Homo sapiens: one gene and its partner. The protein of the gene in region 1 interacts with the protein of each later gene in a pairwise test. Each region holds a gene or a part of one and is shown in the gene's direction. Other genes may lie near its edges.

Evidence for each region.
Region 2: the proteins of PKP1 (region 1) and DSC1 interact in a two-hybrid assay, tested with the Homo sapiens proteins (one study listed by BioGRID).

What each region holds. Positions count from the first base shown.
Region 1 is NC_000001.11:201,282,463-201,299,011, forward strand, and holds the start of PKP1 (plakophilin-1), read left to right. Parts: upstream 1-1,043; 5' UTR 1,044-1,240; coding exon 1,241-1,442; intron 1,443-11,479; coding exon 11,480-11,583; intron 11,584-16,549. UniProt on the Homo sapiens protein: A component of desmosome cell-cell junctions which are required for positive regulation of cellular adhesion.
Region 2 is NC_000018.10:31,155,022-31,171,897, reverse strand, and holds the start of DSC1 (desmocollin-1 isoform Dsc1a preproprotein), read left to right. Parts: upstream 1-9,041; 5' UTR 9,042-9,303; coding exon 9,304-9,366; intron 9,367-12,368; coding exon 12,369-12,453; intron 12,454-14,324; coding exon 14,325-14,527; intron 14,528-15,735; coding exon 15,736-15,855; intron 15,856-16,876. UniProt on the Homo sapiens protein: A component of desmosome cell-cell junctions which are required for positive regulation of cellular adhesion.

The sequences.
Region 1 (16,549 bases):
ATTTCCATCAAAGTAAATACTTAAAAAAAAAAAAAAACACTCAGCTCCTGTTACACACCAAATTCACTGATGTGGGCTCCCTCCACGCCTGGAGAGGATGCTACATGAATAAAGCTTCACTGCACATGTGTCCCCAGGGGTGAGTGTATATAGGGGAATGCACACAGTGGTCCCAGAATAATAAGTCCAGAGTGAAATTTCAGGGTAAAGCAGCTTTTCAATTTTTCAGTGAGGATCTGGTTAGGATCCGAGTTAGATTTAATTTACCTTAAATTAACTAGCATTCACGTATTCACCTATTTAAAATATTTTTTATTAAGCGCCTAATATTATGTGTGCCAGGCATTGTTTTAGAGGTTATAGTGGAGTTTCAGAGAGGATCCGCTGTTCACGTGGTGTTTTACCGGGGTATACTCATGAACAACAAATAACCACCGGTTTTACCAAGGCATACCCACTGTGTGGTCTGATATCCCAAGTCTGCTCCTTGATGTGGCCTTACTGCCCCTACCCCACTTTCTTCAGAGGAAGCTCCTTTAGAGTAGACTGGGTTACCCCCATAAGATGGAGCACTCCTTTGGAGCAAGAGCTATGGTTCTGCCATCAGCCCGGGAGCCTCCACCGCCGGGGTTGGTCTCTGCTATGACCTCAGTACAGAGGGAGATGGACGCCTGGCTCTCCTGGGCAGCCTGGTCAAGAAAGACTCCTTTCTTTCCTAGAGAGAGGTCTCCCTCGGTTCCTGAGCTGAGCACATGCTTTCTCAGTGAGCCGGCAGAACAGGACAGAGGGGCGTCTCCCTGGGGCCTCAAGGCTTGCGACGTTTCTTGCTCATGGGGAGAGGGAAGGGAGAGAAAAAAAAGAGCGAGCAGGAAGGCGCCCAGCGTCCCACACAGGGGACTCGCAGCCCTGCCCCCAAGAGCGCTGGCTCCGCAGCAGCAGTGCCCTGCAGCTCCGCGTCTGAGCAGCAGCAGCGCGCGGCCCGGTGGAGTGGGTGGTGCAGGGCAGGGGTGGTATATCCTGTCTGACGGAGGGCGGGCCTCGCCAGTGCCAGAGAGGGACGAACCAGGGTGGAAGCGCCAGGAGCAGCTGCAGGGAGCCCTCACGCGGACCACGCACTCTATGGCCGTAGGGAGCCGCTGAGAGCGAGAAGAGCACGCTCCTGCCCGCCCGCTGCACCGCACCTCGCCTCGCCTCTCTGCTCTCCTAGGCCCCGGCCGCGCGCCACCCGCCTCCCGCCACCATGAACCACTCGCCGCTCAAGACCGCCTTGGCGTACGAATGCTTCCAGGACCAGGACAACTCCACGTTGGCTTTGCCGTCGGACCAAAAGATGAAAACAGGCACGTCTGGCAGGCAGCGCGTGCAGGAGCAGGTGATGATGACCGTCAAGCGGCAGAAGTCCAAGTCTTCCCAGTCGTCCACCCTGAGCCACTCCAATCGAGGTAAAGGCTCGGCCCCCGCGTGGTCCGTGCGCCCCTTTCCAGAGCACCCTGGCCCAGTGGCGGGGACCAAGAGACGCACGCATCCCCGGGGATGAGGGGAGGCGAGGGGCTGCCGGCCCCAGGCAGGGTCTACGCACCTAGTGCGAGCAGCCGAGCTCCCAGCCGGTTCTGAGCTGGTGTAAACGCGACCCGAGGCTGGCTCGACGGCCCCGCGAGCTCGATGGCGCGCTAGTGGGCAAGGATGGGTGATTCACCGGGACACAGCCAGGAGCATGTCCCAGCGTGCCAGGAGGTTGAGGATCCCCCGCGAGCGGTTCTCCTGTCCCTGAGCCCTGGGTCTGGACGGCTTTCTCTTTCGGATGCTGCTCTAGGGATCTGCCCTGCATCCTGTCTGGCCCCGGCTGTCCTGGGGCCCATGGTCCCCGCGCTCGCAAACGGTTGTGGGCCACCCTTCACCCTTCCTGGGCTTGATCTCCTGGCCTTCAGCTGGAGGCCGATGCCCAGCGTCCAGGCCAAGGGGAACCCCAGTCCCTGTGGGGCCGCGCATGAGTATCCGCGAGCGGGGTGAGGGAGTCGCTGAGACAGGAGTGCAGCTCAGGAGAGGCGCTGCGGGACGGGAAAGTGGCACAGGGAGCAGGGACGAGGGCCTGGAACTCCAGGGCACTTTATCGAGAGCCTCCTGAAAGAGGCTAGCCTAGTTGGAAGGCCGCCCCAGGGCCAGTGGGTCCCTTGACGACAGGGAAGGGGGTCAGGGATGCTTTCTTTCCCGAATAGCCAATGCAGAAATCCTCTTTCCCACTGGATTCTTCTTACCCCACCCAGCTTAGGTAGAAACAAGTGTCTCATGGGGAGAGTACGGAATGGCAGGTTGGAAATCCCCCCGGGCCCCAGGGAGACCTCCAGCTGAACCCTCACGGGCACTTTTCCAAGCTGGATCCCGGGCCTGGCACCCCCTCCTCCAGCCTCTGAGAGGCCAGATCCCATGACTGGGGGAACCTGGGAGAAAGGGGCAGCACCCAGGAAACTCAAGGAGGAAGGGGCAGTACCTGACAGGGGAGAGCTTATAGACCAAGTAAACACTTTGATACAAAGGATGCCTGGTAAGAATTACACACAAGTGAGCAAAGATTCCACTTGTTTATTTATTTACTTATTTTATTTAGCTAAGTTTAGTAAAATGCTAATAAGACTTTACCCATTACCAAACAGTACAGGTCAACCAAGACTTATGTATTAAGACAGGCCTTAGGAGAGAGTGAGGGGCAGGGGGTAATAAGGTGGAAGGAGACAAAAGAAACCGACCCTGGCCCTTCCACCACACACACACACACACACACACACACACACACACACACACACACCTCACACTTCCTTCTACCTGTGGCTTCTGTCCCCCCACCTACTCCCTAGCCCCCATTCCTGAGTGGCCCCTTGTAGAGCCGAGGGAAGGAAAATGGCCGGCAGAGGACTTCCTGGGCCCCAGACCTAAAGGCCTTTGCTTCTCTGTGTGCTCTTTGCCTTTGTGTGGGCTCCAGGCTCCTCTCGTCACATTTCCACTCAAGATCATGCCACCTCCAGAGCACTTGCCTCCTTCCCTTTTATTTGGTGCCTTGGTAGGTGCCTCCTAGCCTCTTTAGAATTAGGTTTGGAATAACAAAGTGCCCCCATTTCTGGCTACAGCCCAGAGCACAGCTCAACCTACTCTCCTCTCTGCACAAGACTTGGCTGTCCCCTTCCCACTCCCACTCCATCCCAGCCTGAGCTCTTGGCTCACAACTCCAGAAAACTCAAACCGGCCCTGGGTGCCCCAAGGACCCCTTTTTCCTCCTACCTATCGGGATATTGGCTGAGTGTCTGTCAGCAAGAAGTGCACTTTCTGGGCTTGGTCTTTGTGGGGAACTTCTATCTGATAAGGTCTCCTTTGTTCCCTCTTTGTTTTTCCTCCCAAGGTCCCCCAGGGGGCTTCACTGGGGGAGGGTTGATGCTGATGGCTACCTCTCCAGAAACTCCAAGGTCTAGCCCTGTGGGCGTGTCCCCTCTACCCTCAGACTCTGCGGAGGTTCCTAAAGGAGGCTGCAGAGGCATCCTTGCTGGAAGAGGCGGTTTGGTCACTTGGAGCTGGTGTTTCTGGTTTATCTGGCTTAGTTTTCATCAGATTTCCTTGTCTTCTCCATCAGAAACACCCAAACGTCCCCTATTTGCTCTGCGGCCACCTCTACTCACTCTGCTCCCTCTTTCTTATGCTGGTTTACCTGTCAGGAGCCTGCTTTGGTTCCTGGAATGGAATGAGCTGGTAGCTGTGGAAGGACCATGCCCCAGGCGTTTTCCCTCGCCCCCTGGACAGATTCAGGTTCTTGTTTAGTCTCTTCCAAGAGCAGAGTCAGTTTACCTAGGGTCTTCTTGAGCCCCTTGAATCCCATCCAAAGTTTCCCTAGTTAAGAAGGGCCAACCATACCCCACAGGTTGCCTGGAAGAGTAGCCACTGCTCCTTGTACCCCAGGAAGGACAGTCAGGACCAGCCATCCTTGGTCCTGTGATAGAAGTGGCTTCTCAGTTCCTCTCCACTAGTGCTCTTTTCTCTCTTGTCACTGAGGGAGTATTGAGCCACTGAGGACTGGAGGAAGGGCCCCTGGAGCCTGTCACAAAATGCCTGTCTGCACTCATGCTCTCCCTGAAATGCCACAGATCAGACAAGCACCTTGCCCTGGTCATGAAGGCCCCGGGCAGGAAGAAGGTGGCTTCTGTGGCCTGGAGACCTTGCAGAAGGAGGTTGCTCTGAACCTGCCTACCCATCTTGAACTGCCCCTGAAGTATTGCTCCCCTGTGTTTTCAGGCTGTCCCTGTGTGCCTCAGGGTGTCTGGCCTCCTTTTCTTCCCAGACTGTGTGGAAGGCAAGGGGAAACTGAGGGGGATGTCACCACCCAGCAAAAGATCTTTGCCAGGGAAATGACCTCCCTGAGGATGGGGAAGGAAACACTTATCCACCTTCCAGATCTTTATAACTTCACTTGGAATCTCTTCCTAAAGCTGAACCTGAATCTCACTTGCCCTAACCCAAGCGCTCCCCCGCCACTGTGAATACAGATCACACCCAGCTCAGTGAAAGGAGCTTCCTTTCACCTGTCCTGTCTCCTTCCAGGGAAGTCCTAACAACACCAGCACCATTGCCTGCTTTGTCTCACTGCCTGCTTAGCCATCTGTGATTTTTTATTTCAGCCTTTGGCCTGAAATTCTCTTTCTCCCTTCTTCATAGAAGTACTGTTTCCCATCTAAAATTGCTAAGCCTCTATTTCTCTCTGATCAGAGGTAGGGGCTGGAGGCAACATTGAGCCAGGGGAGGTGCCTGCTCCCTTTCTGTAGTTCCTGTGTCTATTCAGCCCTCATCAGGGGAGAGGGGGGCATGCTTGTACGAACTCCGCAGCCTGCACAGTGAAGGAGCTCGCCTCAGGAGCCCCCACTTTGATGGCTTTTTGTATTTGTGTTTGACTATGTCTCAGCATGAGCTTCTGCCCGAGTGTTCTGCTCATTAGAGTTTCTAGAAAGTTGTCCTTTCCTGACCACAGGCATCACTTCTGGGGTTGTTTTCTTGGGACCGAAGCTGAGATTGCAGATGGTAATGGCTATGTGTGCTTTAGCTTGTTCCATTGGCGAAACATACCAATTAAACTTCAAATGAACCAATTCTTGTTTCTTTACAATGTACCTTGGCTTGAAGTTGGAGTTTTAGCCAGAATTTCCGTTGGCCTGTTACAACACATGCAAAAATGCTGGGTATTCTAGGGTGTTTTGCAGCAAATGCTGCTTCTCTGGATCCTGCTCCTTGACAGAGATTTTTTAAAAGTACAAATTCCTCCCCCGACCCCATACCATTGTAAGTATCATTGTGCCAATTGTTCTAGGTTTAGAAATCTGGGAAGCGCTTCTGCGATGGGCCGTGACCCTTACAAGATGTGTAATGTTTGAACAAAATAAAATGGACGAATGTTAGATATCTTCATGTGAAGTTCCTTCTAGGCATACGCTGGACACATGCGCACACATGTATACACACATAGGTCACACATGCATATATGCATGTATACACAATACACCCCACACATGAATCCACACACCCACACATGCACACACGTACACACACATAACATGCACACACTTATGTTATGTGTGTGTACATGTGTGTCCTTGCAGCTGTGCTGTGTCAGGAGCCCAGCCTGGCATCTACCTGGTGTGCGATCTTGGACAAGTCGCTGCCTCTCTTTGGGTCTCTGCAGCTGTCAGAGGTTGGATTAGATCATCTCCAAAGTGCTTTGCAATGGGAACACTCTTTGGAAATAGATTTTATAACTCTCTAGCTCTGCAAACCATTTGCCCAGACCGCCAGCAGCTGTTCTGCCAAAAAGCTCTTCCCCTTAAGGCATGCCACTCATCGTGTCTCTCTCGTAAACATCCTAACATATTAAAAAGTCTTCTCATCCACTCTTCTCAAACTTGGCTACATATTGGAATCACCTGGAAATTTCAAACAACACAAATGCGTGAGTCCCACCCCCAGAGATTCTGACTTAGTGAGTATGAAAGATGGCACGGGCATCAGGACTTCAGAAACTCCCAGGTGATTCTCATGTGTAGCCAAGTTGGAGAACCACTGTTCTAGTCCCTGTCCTTCACTCACACAGATCCAGCATGGGGGAGCACCCCTATACAATGACATACACCCATGTCTTTCTCTCATACACACACACACACGCACACTTAATGTAGTAGTTGCTGGCGAGAGCCTTTGACTCTGAACCCCACCTGAACCCGTCAACCCTTGCCCACTCTAACCCACCACCCTGCCCCCTCACGCCCATCCTGTCCCCACAGGATGCTCCCATGCTCTGCCCAGTCCTCAGGCTTGGTGGTGGCCATGAACAGATCTGCTGAAAGAGCAGCAGGATTGTGGCAGAGCTAGGTCTGAACGCGTCCCAGCAGAGCCTGAGGGAGTCACATGGGCTGGAGAGGGAGAAGAGAGAACACAGGCCACAGCAACCCAGTTTGTTTCAGCATTTCTGTTCAGTACGTACACCCAGGAAAAGGTCAAGAGCCACACCAAAGTGCCCGGTGAGGCTGTGCTGAACTCCTTGCCCTCCCCATCTCCTAGAAGCTGCCGAGTTGGGGAGGCATGTCCACGGTGCTCCCAGCAGCCCAGCAGAGGGGGCAGGAGGCTGGCCAGCCCAGTCCTCCCTCCAGGAGCTGGAACCATCCCGCAGACACAGTCCACTCCTGCCCACTCCGAAACACCTCTGAGGGTATTCTCTCAGCAGTAGCTTCCTGGCAGTTCTTGTTATCTCATTTAAATTCCTATTGCTGTGGGCCTAGCTTTTCTGGGCACCATGGGTGAAAGAGATTTCAGAGGGTGAAGTAAAGGCATTTTCAAGACTAAAAGAAAATGAGCTTCCTTTCTCAAGCTTTTCATGCTGAAGGACAGGTGGGCTTTATTCAAAAGTAGAATATGCTAGAAGAAGCATCGGCCTTAAGGGAGACAGAGTAAGCAAGAATGTGTTCCGAGCAGCTTGCCCTGTGACGAAGGAGAAGGATTTGAGGGGAGGGAAAGTGGAAAAAGCGGATTTCCCTATGACCTCTGTCTGCAGGAAGGCTGATGTCCTGAGAGCCTTCTCTATGTAGAACCTGGGCCTGGGATTGGGGGTGTGGAGTGTGGATCTACCAAAGGTGAAGATTCCTTGCTTCAGGGAGCTCCCAGCTTGGTTGGGGAGACCCAGGCCCTACCTTCTGGGAGGAGTGCACACACACACACACACACACACACACACACACACACAGTGTACAGAAGCCACATTCCAAGGAGCCCACAAGCCAGTGCAGAGTCAGCCGCTGGATTGAGTGCTGACATGGTTATGCTGGCAAGTTTGGAGTGCTCAGAGCTGGGTGCGGTCATCTTTAGGAGAAGCTGATTTTTGTGCAAGGTTTTGAATGCAGGGGGAGGGTTGGAGAAGAAGAGAAAGAATGTTTCAGGTGCAGTAAGTGTGACCTATTTGAAAGCTTGGAGGTGGAAGAGGATGAGTCATCCCTGCAAAGGCTCACCTGCCCCTACTGGAGAGAGATTTCCACTCATCCTAAAGAAGGAGCTGCCTCCAGTTTCAAAGGTTTTGAGGCGAGAAAGCTTGAGTTGCACCGATGACACAAGAAAGAATCAGCCTGTCGTTGTCTAAGGCACCAAAGGGAAGCAGTGTGCCAGGACACTGGTGACCTGAGCGGTAGATTTTCTGAGATGGTTTTACACCCTAAAACGCGGATGTAAAATCAGACGAGCTATGTGGACAGAGCAGGTTGTGTTGCTTGTATACCTGGGAAAGTGGCAGATGCTCTGAGGCACTTGCTCCTTGACCTTGGGGTTCTGTGGGTGGGCAGATGCTTCCTGAGGATGGCACACAGGTTGGGCACACTGTCAGTGTCACCGAGAAGCCACCACATCCCTGCTCATGCTGCATGCACCCATATGGGGAGAAGAGGGGCAAAGCAGATGCTTAGCTGGAGGGTAGGAGTGATTCTGTGGGGTGAGCTGGGAACTAGCCCCTCCCCCATTCCCCAGGAACTAAGAATCCTCCTCAAGGAGGTGGCCTTGGGTATTTGAGAGCTGCAGCAGCCCTCCTCTCTTCCTGGTTTACCCCACTCACCAGGGACCTCTTTGAGTGGGAGGAGAGCCTGACCCCATTCTAAGCCTCTAAGCACCAGGCATCAGAGCACGTTCACCACAAGGGTTGGGCAAGGGAGAAGAGGTCATTGACGCAAAGAGCCAGCTCAAGCCAGTCAGGCCCAGACCCAGCTGGGGCAATGCCCTGAACTCAAGGTCCCAGGGAAAGAAAGACATGGTTCGCACTTCAGAGAGTGTCCAAAGTACATGGTGGTGGAGACTTGTACGGGCGTGAGATGGAGATGGGAGTAGGCGTCATTCATCAGGAAAGGCTTCCTAGAAGTGCATTCTAGAGACATCGGGGACCAAGTGGAAGAGTGAGCTAGCACCATTACACTCATTAGAAGCCCATGCTCTTGCTATTGAACTTGACTTTTAGAGGGCATTACTTACCAGTCAGACACCCCAGGGTCAAGAGAGGGAAAATCACTTTTGTTGTGGGAGCAGTGCTCTTACAGACAGAGCACACCTGCCCCCAGTACTCCTTGGTTATCTGGCACACTGCGAGCTGTGATTTCAGGTGTGTGACAACTATGGACTTTTCCCCTCTCTCACCACCTCCGCCCCAAATACTGTCACCTTCTGCCAGATTAGCAGTGCAGGCAGGTGTGATGTTACCCTCATTCTCACCAGAGCCAAGCAGACCCCAACTACAGATAGGTCTTAGGAGATGCCTTCAGGAACTGCCTGGAAGGGCCTGCAGGCCACAAGTGAGTGACAGTCACACCTGCCTTTACCAGAGTTCATGCTGGACATGGGGACTGGCTTTGGGAACTGCAGGGCATTCTGGCCTCTCCCTCCATGTGTCTGTGTGTCCACTGCCACCTCCATGGCAGAGAGGCCTCTACCTTCATACAGAGAAGAGTGTATGAGAGGGAGGCAGGCAGGTGCAGGGTGTGGCGGGAGGAGATGGTTAGTCTGATGACCCATGGGGAGAGCAGCATCATGCTGACAGGTTCTCTCCCAGAAGACGGGCAAGAAGGCCCTGGTGCAAGCCCCCCGGGGCTGCTTCTCATAGCAGGAGGCCTCCCCGGTGCTCCATAAAGTTCTGTCTGTCACCACCCCAAATTTTCCACCCAGAAGCAGCTGACTGACCCACACCTGACCTTTGGTGAGAAATACCTGCTCACAGGGCCAGATCCAAATGAACTCTATCCTATCAAACCTTGGAAGAATGATCAAAGTGGGCTGGGTGGAAGGGAGGCAGACAAGACCTGGTGGTTGGCCACCTAGGGTCCTGACTATGAGTGTGCCTGGCTGCAGCCCCCTTCCTTGGGAGCACCAGTCCTGAGTGACTGAGCCCATGAGATTGCCTCCAGCCTCTTCCTGATAAGGACAGTCTTGCCAGAGGAGCGGTTGCTGGAGAAAGGTGGAGGAAGAGCTGTGTGCACTCTACAGGGAGCTTGGAGGAAGCCAGAGGTTCAATGGGCCACATGGCAGAGTCCCAGGATGTTGCTCATAGGCGGATGGCCCTTCTGGAGTCAGGGCTAGGCCTGGAGTATAGGGGAGGCCTCTCAGAGGACCCTGAGGCAGGTGGCAAACGAGGCGGTAGTGTGGCCTTTGATGTCTGCCCTTCTTCCTTGTAAGCTGAGCTGTGTCTCTGGAGAGGAGGAGTCGGCTCCTCTGAACGCAGTCAGGCACGTGTCACTATCATCACACCACCACAGGGCAGTGGAACTGTACGGGGCCTATGGGAGGTAAGAGGCCAACCCTCTCTTTTGACAGAAGAGGACACTGAGGCTCAGAGAGAGCAAGTGACTTGCCCAGGTGCCAGAACCAGGACAAATATCAACACCGCTAGGCCCCCAGGGCAAGCTGTGTCTGCCACAGCTTGAGACCCCTAATGTCCATGATGGAAGGGTGCAGAGAGTTGGGCAGCACTCTCTGCTGTGGGCTATGGGTGGTGACCTGGCGCTGGACAGGGGAGGTGGCACGAGGTGGGGATCCCTGCCTCATTCCAAAGCTGCCCCTTGGCTATTCCCTCTACTCCCAGCTCAGATATTCCAGCCCTGCTCCCCCAGGCAATGGCCGGGGAGCCTAAGTGGGTGTGGCAGATGGGGAGGAGCTACCTTGGCTGGGTGAGATCACTGCCCAACTCTCTTCCCCACAGACAGGGTTTCCGATGGGGGAGTCTGACCATCGCTTTAGAGAAAAGGAGTGCATATCCCTCTTAGGAGGCTCTCACTGGATCCCACTCACCTTCATCCCCCAAGGCCATCACTTAACAAGAGTGTGGGCCAGGCCACGGAGCCATGGCTTGCTCTTCGTGGAGCTCCCAGTATAGCTGAGGGAATGGGACGCAGGGCAGAATGAGACTTGGGCTACCAAGAGCAGGACAGTATGTGTTTAGAGGCAGGAGAGATTGCCTTGTGCAGAACTGATCAGAAAGGGCTTCCTGGAGTGGGTGAGGTCTTGAGCTTGGCTTCAAAAGATGAGCAAGATTAGAAGGTAGTGGCCAAGGAGGGAAGGCAGGTTTGGCATGGAGGGAGATGTGAGTAAAGTGGTGAGCCTGTCACCATTGGCCATATTTCAAGGACAGCAGGACAGTGAACAGACCAGCTTGTGCAGAGTTGATGCTATCCCTTAGGGTGTCCCTGCTGGCCAGTGAAAGGGAGATGAGGGGGGTGGCCCCACTAGGAGCCCCAAATCCAGTTCTGTTTTCTGTGATGCAAAGCCACTTTGCCACTAATAACCCTAATGACACTCTGTCCTCCTGCGGAGCCTGTCATTTGTGGGTCTCCAAGCACTCCGAAAACATTAATTAATCCTCACTGGGCCTTTGAGGTTGATCGCCGCTCCCCCTTCACCAGCCAGAGCATGTTAGAGGTGAAAGAATGGGAGGAAGTTTGGTCACTGGTAGGGGCTGGGCTGAGATTTGAATCCAGAGTCCTGTCCTGAATCAATCTCTAATCAGCTGTTGCTGCTGGACTGGGAATGTCGGAATCCTGCCTGTCTCCCCTGAGTGGGAATCTTATCCTTGTGGAACATGGAGTGATGATTCCCTGGGCTGGAATGGCCGTGCTCCAAGGCCCTCCAGACCAAGTCCTGACCTGTAGGTGTTAACCTACCCAAGCAGCAGTGGAGCCACTGGGCTCCCAGGAAGGGGACAGATGAGAGTTTTAGAGCTGTCCCTGCAGGAGTCTGTGGTAGCCCTTCCCTTGGTCCCGGCTGTGGAGGATGTGGAGATAGATGGAGATGACATTCCCCACCTTCTCCTCCAGGAGCTCAGACCTGGTCTCCTCCATGGGCATAGTGGACCTGGATGCAGAAGTGATGCCCTGAGGAACAGGGGTGGATGAAGATCATGGCCATCCCTGTCCTAATCCCCTCCTTTCTCCTCTAGGTTCCATGTATGATGGCTTGGCTGACAATTACAACTATGGGACCACCAGCAGGAGCAGCTACTACTCCAAGTTCCAGGCAGGGAATGGCTCATGGGGATATCCGGTAAGGAACTGCTTCCATCCTAAAAGACCTGGAGTACTTGTGGGGATGGTTTGAGGTTTATAGTGGAGAAAACCGGCACCAGTTGCTAAAAAGAGTGATGTAGGCTTTGGTCCGTGAGTTGAGGCTCATCAACTCTGACTAGGTCTGTTGACTTGGCCATTGTTTCATAGGTGGCTCTCGTTTGGGCTGACTGGATATTTTTGAATGTCTCAAATGATAATATTTTAGGAAAAGCATTTTTAAAAGGCATTTAAAAACAAGTCCATTTCCCAGTAGGTCTGATTTGATCATGGATTTGGGAAATGTTTGCATTCTTGAGGTCTATTAATGGACCAGTTTAGATGTTTCTAGGAAAATCCTAAAGGGTCATCTCTGTTCGTTCTGTGCCTATGGTCAAAGAGCCAAGAGAACATGTCCACTGCATTGACTCCTGCATATGACACTGCATGCTAGAGTGGAGCCTCCCTGACAACCCGACACATTTGGGTTCAAATTTTAACTCTGCTACTCACTGAGATGTGGCTTTGGGCAAGTTACTTCAAACTTTGGGACTCAGCTTCTTCACATGGAAAGTGGATATAACAAAGAACTTCTGGGGTCATTTTCAGGATTAAATGAACTAATGTACATGAAAAAAGATTACAATAATTCTTAAGATTATTTGTTAAATTAACATGGATAGAGGTTATTTTAGATCCTGTAATCCTGGCTCTGTCTGCTTTCTAAGTGATCTCAATCCACTATACTTCATCTATCCATTTACTGAACAAATATTTATTGAGCCCTAATTCTGTGACAAGCACTGCAGTAGATGCTCAGGATACAACCACACCAGCCAGTGCAGGAATTTTCTGCTGCTCTAAAGTCAGGAGTACCGGGCTAGATGACACCCAAGGTTTCTCCTAGCCTCCAAATTCTATGACTTTCATTTACTTTCGCTGATGCAACATTAGCCTGCATTATTCTTGGGAATTCTTTTGTAAGGCCCTCAAGACATTGTCAGATGGGGATTAAAGGCTGCTTCTCTGTGGGAATCTGGGGTTCTGTCTTGGTGGGGCCTTAGGATGAAGCAGCATTTGCTTTAAGACACAGATGTCTCACAGATATCACTCCTGATTGACTGTCAAAGGTCCTGGGTCCTGGGGAGAGGAGAGGGTGAGGAGTTTATAAGTTTGGTGTTCTTTTGTCATTTGCTTGATTCTTCCATTCCTGAGTTCTTTTGGGGGCTAATTTTGGAGGCTATGTCTTTCTTACATATTACAGCTTGGGGATGAAAGGAGACAATTAACTAGATTTGCTGTGAATTTACTTCCCTCGCTTTTTTCCTGATTCTTGATGGCAAATGACACTCTTAGTGCAAAATAAACCCAGCACACTGAGCCCGGTAAACTGACAGATCAAGCACAGATGTGAATAAAAGGGCTTTTACACAAAGGGTGATGACCAAATTGAGAAAATGGCTTAGGAATGCAGCATAAAGGGATTAGATGAAACCCAAGGAAGGCAGATCACTGCACCAGCAGCCGGAATGGATGATTATGCTGACAGTACAGATGGTACGTGTCTTTACTTAAATGACATTACCAGTTCAGAGCTTAGGAGGCTTAGGTTCTAGTCCTAGTTCTGCCCCTCTCTGGCTCTGTGACTTTAGATAGTTTAATTTCTCTGGGCCTCAGTTTTCTCATCCATAAAAAGGGAATGATGATACTCGTGTGTCTACTTCACTCACGGGTTGATATCAGATGACATTAACTGTGAAGTATTATCAAATGGGTAATGTAACCATGGAAATTTGTAACCAAGAACTGTAAAGGAACTCTTTCGGGGAAGGTGTTTCTAAAGAAAAAAAAAAAATCTTCATTTGGCCCATGTTGAACATTTCACTTCTGGTTAATTAACTCAGTCCTCAGTCATCTCACTAGCTTTTAATGCTCCCAAACTGTCCTCACCCCTCCCTGTGCCCATTTCCTGACAACCAGTGAAAATCTCTTTCCTTCTCCCCACCCTAAGACCCAACCCTCCTTACTCCCTCGCTGGCAGGACTGCAGACATGACTCATGGCAGGGTAGCTGCTGAGGCACGTCCCATCTCCTTTCAGTTCAGGAGAGGCTGTGGGAAGAGGGAAGAACTGAGCACACATGAAGATTTGGCAGAGGGAGGAGGCCAAGTAGGGAGGAAGTGGAATAATTGATATTGGAGCCAGACATATAATCAGATGAAACCTGGGCAAAACCAAACGAGGTCCAGACATAAGGAGAAGGAGAGCAGGCGAAAAGGCAATAGAGATCTGTGGCATGAGATAATCCTATGTCCGTGGGATTTTCCCATGGATGGTACAACTGGCACAGGACGATGTTATTCCTCCCCTCTGGTGAAACCAATATGGCAGCAGAAGGCAGGGAGGGTGGGGAGGAGGGTGTAGTTTGTCTGCACAAGCATCATCAGCATATTTTCAGGAGCTTCTGAGAGCTGATGAAGGATCATTTGCTGCAGATACTTTATATTCACTCGGTCAGCCAACTTGTATTGAGCAATTGCTGGGGCACAGCAGTGAGTGAGGTGCGCTACAGAAACACAGTTGAAAAGAATCTGACTTTGCCCTCAATGAACCTGCAGTCAAGTTAGAAGCACAGAGGTCAACAGACAAATAAGATAAAGGCATTAGTTTCTGTACTGGAGCATAACACCAATACTGCCATTGCTCAGAATGTTTCTAGAACCCCTAAAAGTTCAGAACTGTCTTCAGCATCATTTCAGGAGCCAGACAAGAAAACCAGTCTCATTTCTTTATTGTCATGACCTGGGTTTGACCAGAAACAATATTACTCACTTGGAGCACCTCACTCCTCAGATCTGGCTCTAGTTCTAAATATCAAACCATTCTCAAATAGCAAAGCTTTGTCACCTCCTATACATATCTCATTTAAATATGTAAAGGATCTGTAGGCAATTCCAAAAAGAAGGCTCTAAAAATATTTAAAAAGCAATGGTCGTACCTTATAGTTTTACCTTATAGTCTATATCAATAATAGCCTTGTAATTAAAAAACAATCATCATACTATTTATAATCTATGATTATTCACATCACAAATTGAATGTAGAGAGACTTTCTTATAATAAAATAAAACTTAAAACAAAGATAGTGTGACACACAAAAAGCATCTAGGGGCTTAAGGAAAATAAAAGACTGCTCCAAAGAAAGTCATTGGCCCAGTCCATGTTCTGCTCTCTGCTGGCCACCCCAGCCTCCTCCTCCTTCAGGCAGAAGGATCTGCTGGAGGACAATGTTGGAACCTCAGAGCCCCACAGACCTCAGGGAGAGGAAGCAGCTGGTGAGATGGAGCAAAAGATGGGGCAGGTTTTAGCCTCGCTGCCTGGTTTCTCAGCTGCATACTCAGCTATGCTCTTCTGGTTCTCAGCACCAAACCTGTAGAATATTAGAGCCCAACACTGTTTGCATTTTACAGTTGAGGAAACGCAGGCCCAGAGAAGAGAAATTACTCCTTGAAGGCCACACAGCTGGTTACTGGTACAGCGGACTAGATCTCTGACCTCGTAACTCCTAACCTAGTGGAGTTTGTTTTCATTACCCCAGACATTTGCACTTCTTATGACTGCCATTCTGTGGGTTTCCACAATCTCAATATTTGAACGTTACAACTAAACACTAAACACTAAAGTTTAGGGATCTGCAAGACACTCATGAGTCTGAATCCCTCCATTTCCTCCCTTCCCATCCCCTCCAACCAGGCCTACTCTCACCATGGGGAGTCAGCCTAGCTCAAAAGAGGCAGGAGAGAAGCTCTGTTTTTCCCTTCCTAGACTGAGGCTGGGTTCACTTGGGTATAAGCATTAATGGGTTTCAGGGCAGGGTTACCAGATAAAATACAACAAAATACAATAATTGAGACATGTCTTAACTTAGAAATTATTTGCTGTTTATGTAAAATTCAAATATAACTACATGCCCCGTCTATCTATTTGTTAAATCTGGCAACCCTCTGTCACTATGTCTCCCCACTCATTCCTGTGATAAAAACAACACTCCTTTACGTGCTCCTCTCCTAGGCTAGGGACCCAGCAGAATTACTTTAGGCTGCAGCATTTCTGGTGAGAAAAGGAGGATTTTTGTCCCATCTTAGTTGTCCTTGTAATATGTCCCTTGAATATCTTCCTCTGGGTCAGCAAAGACGAGGATGCGGGGAATAGAGAGCTGGAGCCATGGAAAGGCACAGCCCTTCAACTCCAAAGCTGAAAACAGGCCTTGATCACATGGGTTTGTCCTCAGTGAAGCTGAGGCGTGTGGACAATTTTGATTTCCAGGGAATGGTTCTGGATTAAGATGACACTCCTTTTGTCTATCATCTTCAGCTCCAAAGGGTTTACTTATTTTTAAATCAAGAAGTGCACCCTGAGCACTTCTTCTGGGAGTCCTACCAAGTAAAAAGTTCTTAGGTGGCAGATTGCCCTACACCACCCTGCTCAGGATCTAATCAGTAGAGAGGAAAACCACTGAGGCATCATCAGAGGGAGGTCTGGAACAGGGTGACCATGGTGACTGCCACATTGAATCACTCAGTTAAATCCAGCCTGGCATGCCTAAGAGTGAGAACTCCCAGAATATAACAAGGGAGAATTCTGTCTTTGTCTTGGCATTGTCCTATTCATTGACCCCATTTCTCCTCTTTAACGCAGGACTTACTAGCAAATCTTTCTTCCAGCTTCTTCTCAGTTGTACTTGCCTAACTGATATGTCTGTATTTGACGATCCCATTGTGACAGAGTCTTGTGGACAATGTGCTAGGGGCCCTTACCCTAAGGAGAACTGATCTTGGCCACCCTAGACCTGAAGAAATGTGGATGAAGCCTCTGTTACAGATGAGAGGACTGGGGTTGCATCACACTCCAGCAGGGGATGGGAAAGCCAAGCACAGTGCTCCCCAGGTTGGTGGTTCACCCTCAGTC
Region 2 (16,876 bases), on another chromosome or scaffold:
ACTGACAGTATTAAAGATTTTCCCAGTGTTTGCTATTTCTTTTAACTAAAATTCACAGATGCCCCAGCATCCAATTCTAACTCTTATCTTATAGCTTTGATTTTTTATTTTTCTCCAATTATCTACTCAAACCAGTAACCCAGATCCACAGACTTGCCATCAAAGACCTAAATCCAGGCTCTATGCAAGATTAATGGTGTGACCTGGGGCAAATCCTTTTTGTTTCTGAGTTTTCTCATTTGGAAAATGGAGGATTAAATGAGATATATATATATGAAACTATAGTACATTATTTTATTATTTTTAAGATCAAATTTATTTCAAATTTTAAAACTTGAAAAAAAAGGAGTTAAAACCGGAATAACTAATAACCTTAGAAACACCACTCTTTAGGGTCTTTTGCTTCAGGGACCTAGAAAATCAATTTAACACAGTTTCTGGTACTTCTAATTGAAGGAAATGTTGTGTTTGTTTAGGCTTTCTCATGTAGGGCAAGACACCTGTTAAGTTTCATGGCTCAGACAGATGACTTGAAGTTGATTTATGGTGTTTTTCTTAATCAGCTCTAAAACTAACATCATTTTCATTGTGTTTTCCTTTTTCTAGCCACACAGAGCTGCTTTAATCATGTAAATCTTGCTCTCTGCCTTCTTTGTGCAGTGTTTGTTGCTCTACCAACATGGGATGCCTTTTTCTCCTTCCTTCTTGCTTGACAAATTCCTGCACATCACTTCATATGTCAAATTTCTGAAAAGATCTCCCTGCCCTGTCTCCTCTGAGTTGTCTAATTGTCACTCCAATCTGCTGCCCTCATACCCTGAACTTACTGTGATAATGTCACTTTTCACGTTTATTTGAGCATATCCTGATGCAGTGCATAACACATAATAGCCACTCAATAAAACCAGTTGAATTAATTCATTCTTCCATCCTCCTTCATCTTCTCCATTTTTTTCATGCCTTCTCTCTCTTTTTCTTCTCTTTTATTCATTTGTTATATTTTAATCAAGCATATTATTTAAAATGTATAACCTCGGGTGTTTTCCATTAACTAGCTTATTATCACTACATTCTCTAATTTTGTGTCACAACATTAAAAAATCTTCAGTGTTGTGATTTTAACTGTTCTATTTGTTCAGTGACATGTGTACAACTATTTATCTTAAAAAATAGAACTATAAAATGCTTTACATTTTGTTTGTTTTTAGTGGTACAAGCCAACTATTCTTCAAACTATATCAGATATCTCCATTTTCTAGTACACCCTAGTAAACAGAGTATTTTCTAGCCTACTCAAGAACCAACGTAAGTTGTAGACGCCTCATTTCTGTGACTTGGTTCCTTCCCCCTGTAATTCTCTCACTAGCCTTGGGTTGGTGGTCTCCTTCCTCTCTCTCTCTCTCTCTCTCTTTCTCTCTGTGTACACACACACATACAAATACGTTTTTTTGCAACATAGGGAAAAATAAAAACAAAACAAATACTGAAATTTACATGAAAATTACTCTCAAGTCCAAGCACAATAAAATAAAAGAAAATAAAACGTCATAAGAAACACCTTATAGATCCTTTCTACTTTCTTTTTTCTTTTAACACAGGGTCTCGTTCTTTTGCCCAGGCTGGAGTGGAGGGCATAATCGCTGCTCACTGCAGCCTTGACCTCCTGGGTTCAATTGATCCTTTTCTTTTCTTTTCTTTTCTTTTTTTTTTGAGACGGAGTCTCACTCTGTCGCCCAGGCTGGAGTGCAGTGGTGCCATCTCCGCTCACTGCAACCTCTGCCTCCCCGGTTCACGCCATTCTCCTGCCTCAGCCTCCCGAGTAGCTGGGACTACAGGCGCCCGTCACCACGCCCGGCTAATTTTTTGTTTTTAGTAGAGATGGGGTTTCACAGTATTAGCCAGGATGGTCTCGATCTCCTGACCTCGTGATCTGCCCGCCTCTGCCTCCCAAAGTGCTGGGATTACAGGCGTGAGCCACTGAGCCTGGCAATTATTTATTTATTCAGTTTTGCCCAGGTTGGCCTCGAACGCATAGCCTCTCCTCCTTGCACGCCAGGGCAACCGGCCAGAGCCACCGCAGCTCCCAGTCGATCCTCTTATCTCAGCCTCCTGGGTAGCTGGGATTACAGGCGTGCACCACCATGACCGGCTAACATTTATATTTTTTTGGTGAGACAGGGTTTCCCTATGTTGTCCAGACTAGTGTCAAACTCCTGAGCTCTAGTGATCCGCCCACCCTGGCCTCCCAAAGTGTTGGGATTACAGGTGTGAGCTACCACGCCCAGCCTACTTTCTAGCTTTGGCCAATATCCTGTCTTAAGTTGTTCATGGTGTGAATCTGTACATGCTTCTCCCTCACTAGGAAAACTTTATATCCTAATTACAAGTAATGACAACAACCTAATCTCCACCCTCCTTCCCTTCCATTAGAAAAATCTATAGGATATAGTGGTAAAGAAATACATTCCTTAAAAATTAAATTATTTCATCTAAGATAACACCACCAGAGCTTTGATGAAACGTACTATAACGTACCTTTCAGAATAGTAGCAAAATAGGAAGAGATTCAACATAGTAGCTTACGTTAAACTGAGGTAAAGCTCAGTTTTTCATTGTACCTGAGACCTTTGATTTGTCTTAGGTGAAAGACAAGCTTGCAGGCACTCACAAACATCTCCAAGGTACAGGAAATAATTCTCAGAAATATTCTAGTTTAAATTTCTCTGTGGAAAAGGAAACTTTTACCAAAAGACAGCACAATCTGTCATCTTCTCTATCCACATCCCTACAGGAGAAAGTGTTTTATTTGATCACGTAAAATAGTTTCAGTCTTCCATTTTCATCTTTCTAATTTTTCAGTACATAGAAATAGCAGCAGTTTATAGTGATCATTGGAAAGATCAGCAATTTAATCCTTCATCTTCACCCTTAGACCCACAAAGCAGCATCTGAGCCATTGAGTTTATGGTTTGTTTGTTCGATTAACCTTAGGTAAGATAAATTCTTAAGGGCATTTTATGAAACACTATTCAGAAACCAATCAATAGAGATTCATTTTTGTTACGTCCAAAACAAGGTGCAGAAACCTTGAGGATTTGGTTTTATATTTAGTTCAATAGCAAAGAAATAGAAATGGTTTCTTTGAGTATGCACCACATTTGCTATACAAGTAACAACACCTGCATTTCAATCTAGCCAACAAATCAATTTATAATGCTCTGGGTGAGTTTTGTGGTTGTTAGTTCCAAAAATGCCAATAGTTTCTCAGGAAAGATTAGGTTTTCAACCAACTTATAAAACAAAAATTCGATTTCACTGTCATCGGATTCAATCACAAACATATAATAAAAGGCTAGGTATTAAAAGGAGTAACAACTTTCTGATCTCAAAGGAAACCCCATTTAAGAGAGAGATTTACTTGTTAACTTCTTTGGTTTATTTTAAATGTTATAATTTTCTCATAGTTCCAAATACCTGCTGAGGTATTAAAAGTGCATAGAGGCCAGGTGCTGTGGCTCACACCTGTAATCCCAGCACTTTGGTAGGCCGAAGCCTGGAACACCTGAGGTCAGGAGCTTGAGACCAGCCTGGCCAACATGGTGAAACTCCATCTCTACTAAAAATACAAAAATTAGCTGGGCGTGGTGGTGGACGCCTGTAATCCCAGCTACTGGGGAGGCTGAGGCAGGAGAATCGCTTGAACTCGGGTGGGGATGGGGTCGGAAGTTACAGTGAGCCAAGATCCCGCCACTTCGCTCCAGCCTGGGCCAAAGAGTGAAACTCTGTCTCTCAAAAAAAAAAAAAGTGCATATGCATCATAAGAGAAAATGCAACTGCTTGGAAGTCATGAAAAAGTACTCAACATCATGAATAGGCAAATAATTCAAATTCAAATCATGTCTATAATTTCTTTCTCATCAACACAGCAAGATTTTAAAAAATTAAATGACTATATTCAATTCTTACTAGGATATTTACTGTTATATTGACAGTAAGAAGGTATATTGGTATTCTGCTTTGGAGATGCAGGTTAGCTTTATATACCAAAAACCATTATGTTTCTTATATTTTGACCTAGAACTTCTGTTTGTGGGTCTACATCTCAAGAAATAATCCTGAGTTCAGAAAAAAGATTTATGTATTAGGGTGGTCTTTATAATAATGAAAAATTGAAAACAACTTAAATGTTCAATGTTAGGAACTGGTTAAATCAGTTGTGATATAGTTATTTGAAGGAACTGATTACAGTCATTAACATGGTAGCTATATAGAGTTGTCATGACATAGGACAGATTTTATAACTAGGAGAAAGCATGCTACAAAATTACATTCATAGTGCAAGTATAATAATGTTAAAAATTCTATACACAGAAACCGGACTGGAAACATGTATATTAAAAAGATTATCTTTAGTGAGTATATATTACCATGCTTAAAATCAACATTTAATAATGTGATTCTTAATGTATAAGTAATTGATAGTAAGATTCCATCCACATTAAAAAATACTTTTCAAACGTGTAACTTTGAAGACCACCAAAGGAAATAATAATTGGAGAAAATAGCAATAAATAAAAAAAAATCTAAAGTATTTGTTATATTCATTTCACCAGGATTTTAATCCTGAACATCATAGAAACTACTTTAACTAATTTTCAAACCGTACAGTAAAGTGTAAGCTCCATGAAGGGAGATATCATGTCTTCTTCAATTCTGTATAATCAGCACCACTGGTAATACTCAGCATACAGGAGGTGCTAATACATAAGTGATGAATAACTAACTAGTATTATTGAAATAACAATTTGAAACAGTAAGTTTAGTGGACATCTGTTGATTTGCTTGTCTAGTTACTTTTTATCCTTTTTTTCTGTCTAGCCTAGTGTTATCTTTGGGCAGTCACTTCTTCACCACTTTTTGCCCATGTGGTCAGGTCCACCACTTGACTTTAGGTTTATGTAAAAGATTCAGGCCAGAAGGATTGTGTTTTGCTCAAACTATTGGGAACAAGACATATTCTTTCAACAATGACTTGCTAAACCATTCATTGTTGAAATCCTGGAGGTTCTGGTGGTGATCTTTGCCTCCACACTGGGCAAAACTGAAATAATGAAACCAACACAAAAAAAGGCGGAGCTAAGAGATGGAGAGAATTTATGCTTAAATCTGAGTTAGGCTACCCCCAGCCTTCCAGTTACATGACCTAGCAAATCCTTTTGTCCTCAATAATTTTGTTTTGTTTTCTCTTAAGCCAGTTTGAGTTAGGTATGTGGGCTGAATAGAAAGAGTTCTGAACTACCCAGAGATGTGTGCTAATGTTTCTTTTCATAGGTTTGACAACAGTTTTGATAATAATGGGGAGTGATTATTTTATATAAAATTAATCACTATTCTACGCAAACAGCCTTAGGAAATCATTGTTAGTAATTATTAGTGCACATGAGTTACTTCTAAGTTTTAATAGCCCTTTACCCAGGCAAAAGACTGTGAGTCTAGTGAGATTGAAGGAGTTTCCACTGCAGTACACTGAACTCATGGGAGCCAAGCTTTTTTTTTTTTTTTTTTTAATAGCTAACAGTTCTTTTTCTTTGTTCATACACTTCACCCATACTAAACTCACAAACCCTTTTTTTACACCTGTAGTTTTTGGTATATTTAGTCATTCATATTTAACCCAAAGTGCCTTGTAATGGCTTCATCAATGTGTACAGCATTCCTACCAGTCTAGGAGTCTTTTAGAATAAATTAGGTCATCTTACAGAGATAATGGTTCTCTCTGTAAATGGCTTTTTTGAGGCCCTGAATTTATTCATAATGAGCCCTTTCTGTAAGTTGGTCATAAAAAAAATCTCTAATGAAATTTGTCACTGTATTTCCATAAAATATATTATTTAAATTTATAAAAAGGTGTTTTTCCTTGATGTGCCTTAAGGTTAAAAAAAAAAAAACTAAAGAAATACAAGAGTCATGTGGATCTTTACATTTAAATCTTTCTCTGTATGACCATAAATGTGTGGTAGAAAACAGATTATGCAATACTTATGTATTTAAAATAAAATATTTTCTTCTATAGGGGTTTCTCAACATTTAATCATTGTTCTTAATTTCTCTTTAAATGGCTAATATATTTAATATTTGCTGCAGTGCCTCTTTTTATCTTATCTTTTGAACTGGAAAGATAACTGCATGTTCTTCACCATAAAGTGTGCCTTTATTTTAACGTCATAAGATTTCTGTCTTCTTTTTTTCACCCTATATGATGCTTTTCTCCTAGCAAAGGCCAGAGCCCAGTATGTAACCCCTTAACTACTTGTTCAATGAATAAACCTATTCATGTATCTTTAGGTAGCCTCTACATAACAGACCTTGGATTTGCAATAACTTTGTGTTTGTTTCATTTGAAGTTCAGTCTCTTCAACTTTTTATTGCATGCCTAGGCAATTATATGGTGTAAAATATTAGTGCTTGCTCTGAGCCAGACACTGTTGGAAGTATTTTCTTTATAATATCACATTTAATCTTCATAACAACCTATGAATTAGCCACTATTATTGTCCCCATGTTATAAAGAGACCGAGGCACAGAAGAGTTAACTAACTTGCCTAGGGGTTATACTGCGAATAAGTAGTAAAGAGAGGATTTGCACCCAGGCAGTCTAGCTTCTAAGTCCAAGTTGTTAACCACTAACAATCTTTTGCTTAAGCTTATTAATTTAGACATAGGTTAAAACAAACAAACATACAGATAGAAATAAAAATAAAATAGAGCTTGCAGTGGTTTGAATGTCCCTGCCAAAAGTCATGTTGAAATTTTGTTGCCGTTGTAATGGTGTTAGGAGGTGGGACCTTTAAAAGTTGATTATGCCATGAAGTCCCCACCCTCGGGAGTGGGTTAGTTATCATCAGAGTGGACTTCTGATAACTGGATAAGTTAGGCCACTTCCCTGTCTGTCTTGTGCACTGGCTTCTGTCTTCTGCCTTCCATCATGGGATGACCCTCATCAGATGCCCATGCCATGCTCTTGGACTTTCCAGGCTCCTGAACCATGAACCAAACAAATTTCTGTTTTTGTTTTGTTTTGTTTTTTAATAAATTACCCAGGCTATGGTATTTCTTTACAGCAGCAGAAAACAGACTAAGACAGAGCTCTTACTGAATGATCTAATGCCAGAAAATTGGAAGAAATATGTCTTGTTTTCATTTAATTTTAAGGTAGATTCACGTTTAAGGAAGAGTCAATAATTTGTAATAATAAATTATTTTTTCCTATAAAGTGCCTATATTTTATTTTTAGGAAACCTTTGTGTGCAAATACAAAATATGGGAGAAATAGTAATGTAACAGATTTGCAAACCAATAATTTGGGGTTAGCTTTTACACAAGTTTTTCTATTACCTTTGAGAAAGATAGATAATGGGAAAAGAGAGCACGCAGAAAGTAGGCCAAAAGAAGTAGGATCAGAACATCAACTTCCCAGAACTGTGGAGAGTATTCTGGATTCATTTGAATTGAGCAGTGCCTGGAATCTCTTCATCCAACCAATATATGCCATTTTTTCAGTAACACCAATTTAATTTTGCTCTTCTATATCTTCCTAGTTCAGTGGAGAATATCATGTTATAGAAAAAGGTAATGATAACTTCATTAGCTGAAAAAAATGTGTTTCTATTTTCTAGGGTTGGAGAATTTGTCTTTGAATTATTTAAGCTGTATGACTATCTATTTATCTGTCTATCTATCTATCTAAATATATACTTAGATGATGCTTAAACATGCACAGAATTACACTTGGCTGTACACATATACATCTAAGTAATTTTTCTATTTCTATATTCCCATTCTTTTCTCCCAAAACGCCAGATATAAAAATATTCCATTAAAATGACTGTATTTTCTGATTGAGAAATCAAATTCCAATGCAGTCACAAAATATGTTTATTAGTGGGTATACCACTAGCAATAAAATACTACAAGATATCTTTTAGTTTTTTTTCTCCTGGGTCATTCATTTTCCAAATCTTCCTAGCTTCTAATTCTAATGAAGCAGTTACATTTATTTCTGTCTCTACATACAAGGAGAAATTGTTCCCATTGTCAAATAAGCTGAAGAAAACCTTTCTTTCCTCCCTTCTCAGCAGCATGGGTGTTGGGCTCTACCTTAACATTTGAAAATATTTATCCTTCTGTCCTAACTTCCATCACTGCCATTGAGTGCAATTGGTATCACTGAGCTCACTAATTTGGGACAGGAATAATGATGCTAAAGCTCTTGTTAGAGGAATCATTAGGGTTTAAAAAAATCTACACTTGATGGCCTGATTGTACTATTAAGCTAGGATATCCTATGTGTAATGTACAAGTAATTAGGGTGAATAGAGTGATTTTAGAGAGACTTGCTCTCAAAGATTGTAGTTGTCCTTGAAAAAATATAAAGGTAAAAAGCAGTGGCATCTTGTACAACAAAAGGAAAGCCACAAGAAAGATTATATGCTAGCTATTTCTTTATTCTCTTTCTTTTATGAAGTCTTTACATTCTGATAAGTTTCCTGTGACATCTAGAGAACCAACCACAGTGAATAGTCAATAACAGGAAGTAGATACCATGCCTTTATGAAGTTGCTGCTTTAAACTGGAATGCCAGTTCTCTAGCAGAACTACAGTGTTCTACAGGACCGATGACACTTAAATGCTTAGATGGGAGATAACTTCTGATGAGTGTGATTACACACGCTTAGGTCCTCTGATTTGCCAATGGCAGTTGAGGAGGCATCACTTCCTTGCATGGCGTTTGTGCACAATTTATGTTTGTACCCGAGGGCAAGACAGGTTAATAAGGCCAAGAAGGAGGGGAGGCTGTGGGAGTGGGTAATAACTGGGGAGGACTTCACAGCATCAACCTGGGGGAAAGGGAGGAGGGCTGAGGATGAAGGGTGTTCCCTCCTCCTTCTGCCTATGTGTTAAGTGGCAAGAGAAATTTTGAAAGCTGCTGTGAGGAGGAGCTACTGACTGGGTTTTGGGGTGTTTTGTACCCCACCCTCCTCACTTGTAGGAAAGCCTCTTTGCATTTAGACGTAATTGAACTGGAAGGAAGGAGACTGGCCAGGGAATAGGGGGAAAGAAATTCTCCCGTTGCTCCTCCTACTGTTTATCACTTGCCTCCGGACTGTCTTCCAAACCAAGCTCAGCTGCATCAAGGTGGCAGCAGAATACCCTGTGCAAGTGCCAGCGTCTTCTTAGCCGCTCTGTGCATCCCAGGCTGCCCTGTTATCTGGCCACCGTCCCTGGCCATTGGGACTGCTTCTGATGGCTCTGGCCTCTGCTGCCCCAGGGAGCATCTTCTGTAAGCAGCTCCTTTTCTCTCTCCTGGTGAGTAACAACCAAAGGATTAGGGAATTCAAGCATGTTACTACCTGCTTCCTCTCTGCAGTTTGGGCTTGAAAGAGACTAGGAGTGAGGATGGGAGGCAGAGAAGAGAGATTGGGGAAAACAAAAGCAGATCTGAGGAAGATTCAGGGAAGAGTTGAGAGGCTTGGGATTCAGGATGGAAAGTGTTCAGCTTACTTCTCAAGCACCCACTGCCAGAGTGTTAAAAGTTTTCAAGGGAATCCCTCTTCCATCCTGCTGTGGTGATTTTCTAAGAGTAGAGAAGTGAATTCATTCTTTAGGCATTTGGCCCAGAAGTTTCTGAGGTTTACTTCTGCTACCAGTGATTACATAAACTCATGTTATTTAACATGCTGAGTTCTACTAAGCTGCAAAAAAAGAGAAAGGATTCTGGGTGAACATGCAAATTATCCAGGACTTTTTGAATTTTACCCACGAAGCAGTTTAAGCAAAGAATAGTTTAAGAAAAATAACAAAAATGTGACTGTCATTGAAAATATCCTCAACTTGGCTTCCACTTGGGTTTTTAATAGCTTTGTAACTGTGTAAGGTGCTATTTTTTCTTTGGAGGTGAGGGAAGAGAGGGGGGTTATTTCACACATCCGTCCATCATTTCTGAGGTGTGAGTTTCCTATTTTTTCATTTTAGCAAAATACTTGAGTTTCAAAATATATTTTTAGAAATGGCAGGTATGAGGACAAACATTTTCTCCATGTAAATAATATACAATGCAGGGTTGATGGTCACCTTCTCATCCTGTAACTGCTTAGGGAGACGATAACTCAGATACCATCTTAAGTTAGTACAAGTTTGGTAAAATGTGGTAAAAATGTTTCAAAGGATTCTACCCACATTTCTTTTGCTTCTGATCCCTGTACTGTCTAATATCTCTTGGACAATTCATCTCCTGTTTATTTATTTCTGACTCTGAAACTGACTAAAAGGGTGTCACTAAGCCACTTAGTCAGTGATTTAACCTGAAGACGGGAATAGTATTTAATGAATGGAAACCTTCAGTGGCTCTGCCTGCAGAGGGAGGACCATCAACATGGAATCCTAGGACAAGAAGGAAAGAAGATGGGGGTGGGAGTGGAAGTGTGGATATAACTATAAGAATGTCTCATATATTTATATATATATATGTACATTTATATATATATACACACACGCACATATACAGTCATGCTCTGCAAAACAATGCCTCAGTCAATGATGGACTACATATATGAGTGGTCCCATAGATTATAATGGAGCTCGTCTGTATAGGTGAACCATTTTTTATCTTTTATATTGTATTTTAATGTACTTTTTCTATATCTAAAAATGTTTAGTTACACAAATACTTACAATTGCCTACAGTATTCAGTAGAGGAACATGCTGTACAGGTTTGTAGCTTACAATAAGCTATACTATATACTATACACCTAGGCTGTACCATGGTGCATACCATGGGGCATACATATATAAATCATGGTGTATACCATGTAGGTATAACCCAGGTGTGTAGTAGACTATATCCTCTAAGTGTATGTAAGTATACTCTATGATGTCTGCACAAGGATGAAATCACCTAACGTTGCATTTCTTAGAATGTAAGCAATATATGACTGTGTGTATATATATACACACATACACATACATATATAGGTATAGGTATATGTACAGGTATATGCATATGTATGTGTACATATGTATATGTATGTGTTTATGCATAGCCTAATTACAATATGCTGTTTCCACATTGTATACTTAGACAACTATTAACAGTATGGTCTATGCTTAGAAAGTTCTTTAAGTATAATTTATTATGTTCCTTGGCATTAGGGATGAACATATTTAAAAAGTTAAATAAATACGAATGTCTCACGTTTTAAAAAGTGGTTTTTAAATTAGGACTAAATAAAAATGTGGCCTTTTAATTCCAGATTTCTGCCTAACATAGATTTTTGTAAAATTACAAACTATTTAATTAGACTGCTACAGTATATCTGGTAGACTTGAGATGAGCTGGAAAAGAAGTGCACATCCTTAATATGGATGTTAATCCATTCTCTTTCCTCCTCGCAAGTAATGGGTCCCGTAACTCTAGAATTCAGAGAAAAGCTGAAAGCTGATCATAAAATTGACCTACATGTTTCTGGAAAACCTAGCTCTACTCTATCTTATATTTAAATAATAAAAAAGCAGTTATTTTGATAAAGAGGAACAAACAGAAAATGCCAAGAAAAAGAAGTAAAATATATTTTGAACCTATAGACATTTTTGAAATGATAGCTTTTCTTTTGTTTTTTTCAGATAGTGTCTATGTCTTTGAACTACCTAGGTTTTAAAAACAATAGCTGGGCCTTGAATTTAATTAAAAATCTTCACCCATCTGAAGGATACTCTCCATATTTTGACATATATTTCTTTTTAGATTAGTCATGTGATTTGAGATCATTTAGATTTTGGCGTTTTGGCCAAGTCAGTCACAAAATTGATTTGAGAACAATGATTTTTTGGGGGCATTATTTTTCTGTGAGGTTAAAAAAGCCCTTAACTATTTTCTAGACTTCATCAACTATAACTTCAAATAGTAAAATGATGATTAGAGAATTAGGGCATATATGTAATTATGCATTTCAAAGGTAAGTATTTTCTTCATGCTAAAAATCAGAATGGCATTTATGAATGGTCTTAGAGACGTATAACTTCTATATAAAGTCAATGGTTTGTGAAATATTTTCTTGCATTGACACAATATGATTTAGGTTCTAAGAACTACTATTCACTTAATTTTTTTCATTGACAAATAAATGACAGTGCTATTCCTAAAGCTATTCTCTTTGCTGGTTCCTTTTAAAGTGAGTATTAAAAATGTAAAGAATTAAATGATTAATTTGTTTCCAAAATTGACAATATTTTTATCAATAAGAAAAAGCTACAATGTGAAAATTTGTGATCAAATTTAATTCCTGATATTTTTTCTTTTTTTTTTTTTGAGGTTTTAACATTACTTTGCGATGCTTGTCAGAAAGTTTATCTTCGAGTTCCTTCTCATCTTCAGGCTGAAACACTTGTAGGCAAAGGTGAGAAACACTATTAACAGTTTCATAGCTGTAACTTGTCACATTTAGCTGCAGGCTGCTCTTGTAAAGTTTGGGATAAAAACCACATAGTAGGCCGGGCGCGGTGGCTCACGCCTGTAATCCCAGCACTTTGGGAGGCCGAGGCGGGTGGATCATGAGGTCAGGAGATCGAGACCATCCTGGCTAACAAGGTGAAACCCCGTCTCTACTAAAAATACAAAAAATTAGCCGGGCGCGGTGGCGGGCGCCTGTAGTCCCAGCTACTCGGGAGGCTGAGGCAGGAGAATGGCGTGAACCCAAGAGGCGGAGCTTGCAGTGAGCCGAGATTGCGCCACTGCAGTCCGCAGTCCGGCCTGGGCGACAGAGCAAGACTCTGTCTCAAAAAAAAAAAAAAAAACCACATAGTAGCTACTTGAAGTTAAAATCGGATGTACAATAAAAGACAGGCTACTTGTTTTTTGGTAGTGGTTAGAAATAATTAAAATACCAAAGTTAGTTGTATACTTCTCTTGCCAAAAAAATTAGCAAACATCAGAAGGCTCAATTATCTTGGATTACGTCAAACAAAGCAAGGCACCAAAACCAGGAGCATATTCTAATTTGTATAAACTAATCTGCTGCCAAAATTTCAAAGCCAAGATTCTTCAATTGATTAGACATGAAATGGATGTCTCAAAATCTAAATGCCCCCAATAAAATTTGTACTTGAGGTTGATTACAATGAACAAGTATCCACCAAGAATAAATGTGACATATTTCACAGAACAGCTTGTGAAAATCAAATACAGTTTTGGTGGGTCTTAGTACCATAGCCATCTCTGAAGTATAAGTTGGTTGTTCTGAGCCCAAACGTAAAATTTTTTTCATCAAGGTTTTTCACTGGCTTTGCATTCACATGTAAAAAATTACAAACAATACAGAAATGGTATCCTTTCCAAGCCAGATGTTGTTTTGCCCAGTGCTTTAAGGTTTGAAATTAATAAACAGTCCACACTCTAAAGACACATAGTAAATACACTAAATGTGTTAAATATGAATCTGTAAAGGAGGTAATTTGATAATAACCACAGCGCATCGGGTTTACTAAACCTTGAAAGATATTACAGAAAGATTATTTGCAATATTACTGGGAAATATTACTTAAGAATAGACTGGTTTTCTTCTTATTTATTTATTTAGAGACAAAGTCTTGCTCTGTTGCCCAGGCTGAAGTGCAGTGGTGCTATCTCTGCTCACTGCAACCTTCACCTCCCAGGTTCAAGCAATTCTCCTGACTAAGCCTCCTGAGTCGCTGGAATTACAGGTGCACGCCACCATGCTTGGCTAATTTTTGTATTTTTAGTAGAGATGGAGTTTCACCATATTGGCCAGGCTGATCTAGAACTCCCGACCTTGTGATCCTCCCACCTCGGCCTCCCAAACTGCTGGGATTACAGGTGTGAGCCACTTAGTTTTCTTATTTTTGGCAAGATAGTTTTAAGTATCAAACTACTGCAAAAAGTTCAAAACCTACTGACATCATACGGTTATACCACTTATGACATAAAAAATCAAGTTTGTATACACATATATAAATTTATACACACACAATAATTAAGAGTTCAAAGAAAAGAGAATAAAATCAGTGACACTAGGAAAATATTTTATTTCTCAAATTAATGTATGACGAAGGTAGTGGAAAATGTGACTCCATTAATATAATTATTTAATTTTCATGGCCCCCACGTTTTAGAATAGCAGGTGCTGAGCACATTCCAAATGTAACCTCCCTTTTTCTGCTTCTCATGCATTAACTCACGGCTGTCATTCCTGTAAAACTTGTTCCACTCCTGTTTCATCTGACAAACTGCTGTGATATTTCTTCCCTGCAGTGAATCTGGAGGAGTGTCTCAAGTCGGCCAGCCTAATCCGGTCCAGTGACCCTGCCTTCAGAATTCTAGAAGATGGCTCAATTTACACAACACATGACCTCATTTTGTCTTCTGAAAGGAAAAGTTTTTCCATTTTCCTTTCAGATGGTCAGAGACGGGAACAACAAGAGATAAAAGTTGTACTGTCAGCAAGAGAAAACAAGGTATAAGGCAAGGGCTTAAGCAGCCTAGCACAGTAATATGCTTACGGGAGTCCTTCGTGTTTCATGTGTTTTAACGTGTTTCATGTTAAAATCTATGCTATTGAATGACAAATTTGTCTTTTCCACTTACAATTAGTGTAAATAAAGACTAGACTTTTAAGGAGTGGCAGAGCCATTTACAAACTTTTATAAAGATGAATGACTCTGTAGACCAGGAGCAAAGTAAGAATATCAGAGTTTTCTAATAGTGATTTCAAGTTTGGGAATAAGAACAAACCAACCTGAGGAGCAAGGACAAGACAGGGGCGGGTCTAAAACTCAGCGAAATGTGATTCAGGCTGGAGATGTGGGCTCCACCCTGTGCGGCTCTCTTCCCACTGATTGCGGGTTTGAGTCTCTCTTTAAAGAGGAGAAGAGACTGTTTAAAGCTTACTCCCATCTTACTAGAATATTCTATAGGGCAGGCCCTCTCTTCAGAGAGTGGAGGTGTGGCCAATCCACAGAATTGATTTGAATGTTTAACTCTAGGCTCATTTTCTTGCACTGAGCGGTAGAGATCAGTTCAGAAAGCAGGGAGGAAAAAGTTGCTGGAATTCACATCTCATTTTCAGCAAATTCACCACAATGAATTTCGTCTTATAAAACCATTTCTTAATAAATGATTCTATTTAGGAGAGGATTTCCCAACTAAATTCTTTTTGATTGTATGAACTCCTCTTAATATGCTTAAGACTTTAAAAATGTTATTTTATATCCACATTGTAAAATCCCCACATTATATAAAATCAAGTATACTTGAGCAAATGCTGACCTGTGTCTACATAGATGTATAAATGATTGTATTGTGGAGTGAGGGTTTTAACAGATTTTGGTTGTGCCAGTCCTAGTGGAATAAAGTTGATCCTTAAATATTTATTAATGAATTATCTATTTTAGGGGGAGTTTATACTTTCTCAAAGTGGCATCTTTCCAAATGCCCTATACATTTCCTGGTGGTTAACTGAGTAAATAGAGAAATAGGTAGAACGGGGGAACATAATGTAGTCTGAGGTGTGTGTGTGTGTTTTATCAATAGAAATGCTTTGCTGACTAGCCATGATATTGTAATGTGTAACCCTTACATCTGCTTGTTGATGTATGTGTAAAATAATCACAGTTCCAAAAAATGATAAGCAATGCTACATTTCTTTGTTTCTTGTCAAATGTAGTCTCCTAAGAAGAGACATACCAAAGACACAGCCCTCAAGCGCAGCAAGAGACGATGGGCTCCTATTCCAGCTTCATTGATGGAGAACTCGTTGGGTCCATTTCCACAACACGTTCAGCAGGTGCATTTCACTTATTTGATTTTATATGTGTCCAAATTTTTTTTTGTTCTTAAACTTTTCATTTGAATTGCACAGCATATTGAATCAGAGGTTTAAACTAATGGTACAAATAATGATCATCTATTCACCAGAACTAGGGTCCCATAGAAGTGACCCAGTATATCTTATTACTTTCTTACAGATATCATATTTAGAAATTTAGAAACAAGTTTTATATTTGGAGTTTCTGGTGCTCTTAGGTCTATGTCTAAATTCACCCAAATACTATGCTAGACTTGTTAACACTAATGTACAGAAGGCACACCTACATGTTTTGCATAGTTCAATTCTTGCTTAAACTAACACTCATCTTTTATAAAAATGACCTGTATTTCTGCTTACCAAGTAAGATTGCCTCACTGCCACATAGCTGGATTGCAAACATAGAACAGTTTTGAAATTTTGGAGTATAGTGGCATCAGCTCAGCTCACCGCAACCTCTGCCTCCTGGGTTCAAGCGATTCTCCTGCCTCAACCTCCCGAGTTGCTGGGATTACGGACACCCACCACGAAGCCCAGCTAATTTTTGTATTTTTAGTAGAGGCAAGGTTTCGCCATGTTGACCAGTTTGGTCTTGAACTCCTGATCTCAGGTGATTCACCTGCCTAGGCCTCCCAAAGTGCTGGGATTACAGGTGTGAGCCACTGCGCCCGGCCAAAATTTTCTAATTCTTGAGGAATTAATTGTGGAAGAAAAGTTGCTTTACTTCTAGTTTTATTATCACATAATTTTCAATTCCAAAGAATTCAAAATCACGGAAACTGTTACTATTATTTATATGAAGATAAGAATAAATAGATAAAACTTGAAAAGTGTATTACTCTACATGTTTTATAGATATACAAATGACAAAAAAGTTGAGATCAAATAAGTGACAGAATTTGTGGCTTTGCACAATGCAAAATGCAAATAAAAATTCGGAAAACATGGCAGATAATGGGCACCTAAGCAGAAGAAAGAAAGAATAGGAGAGTAGGAAAGA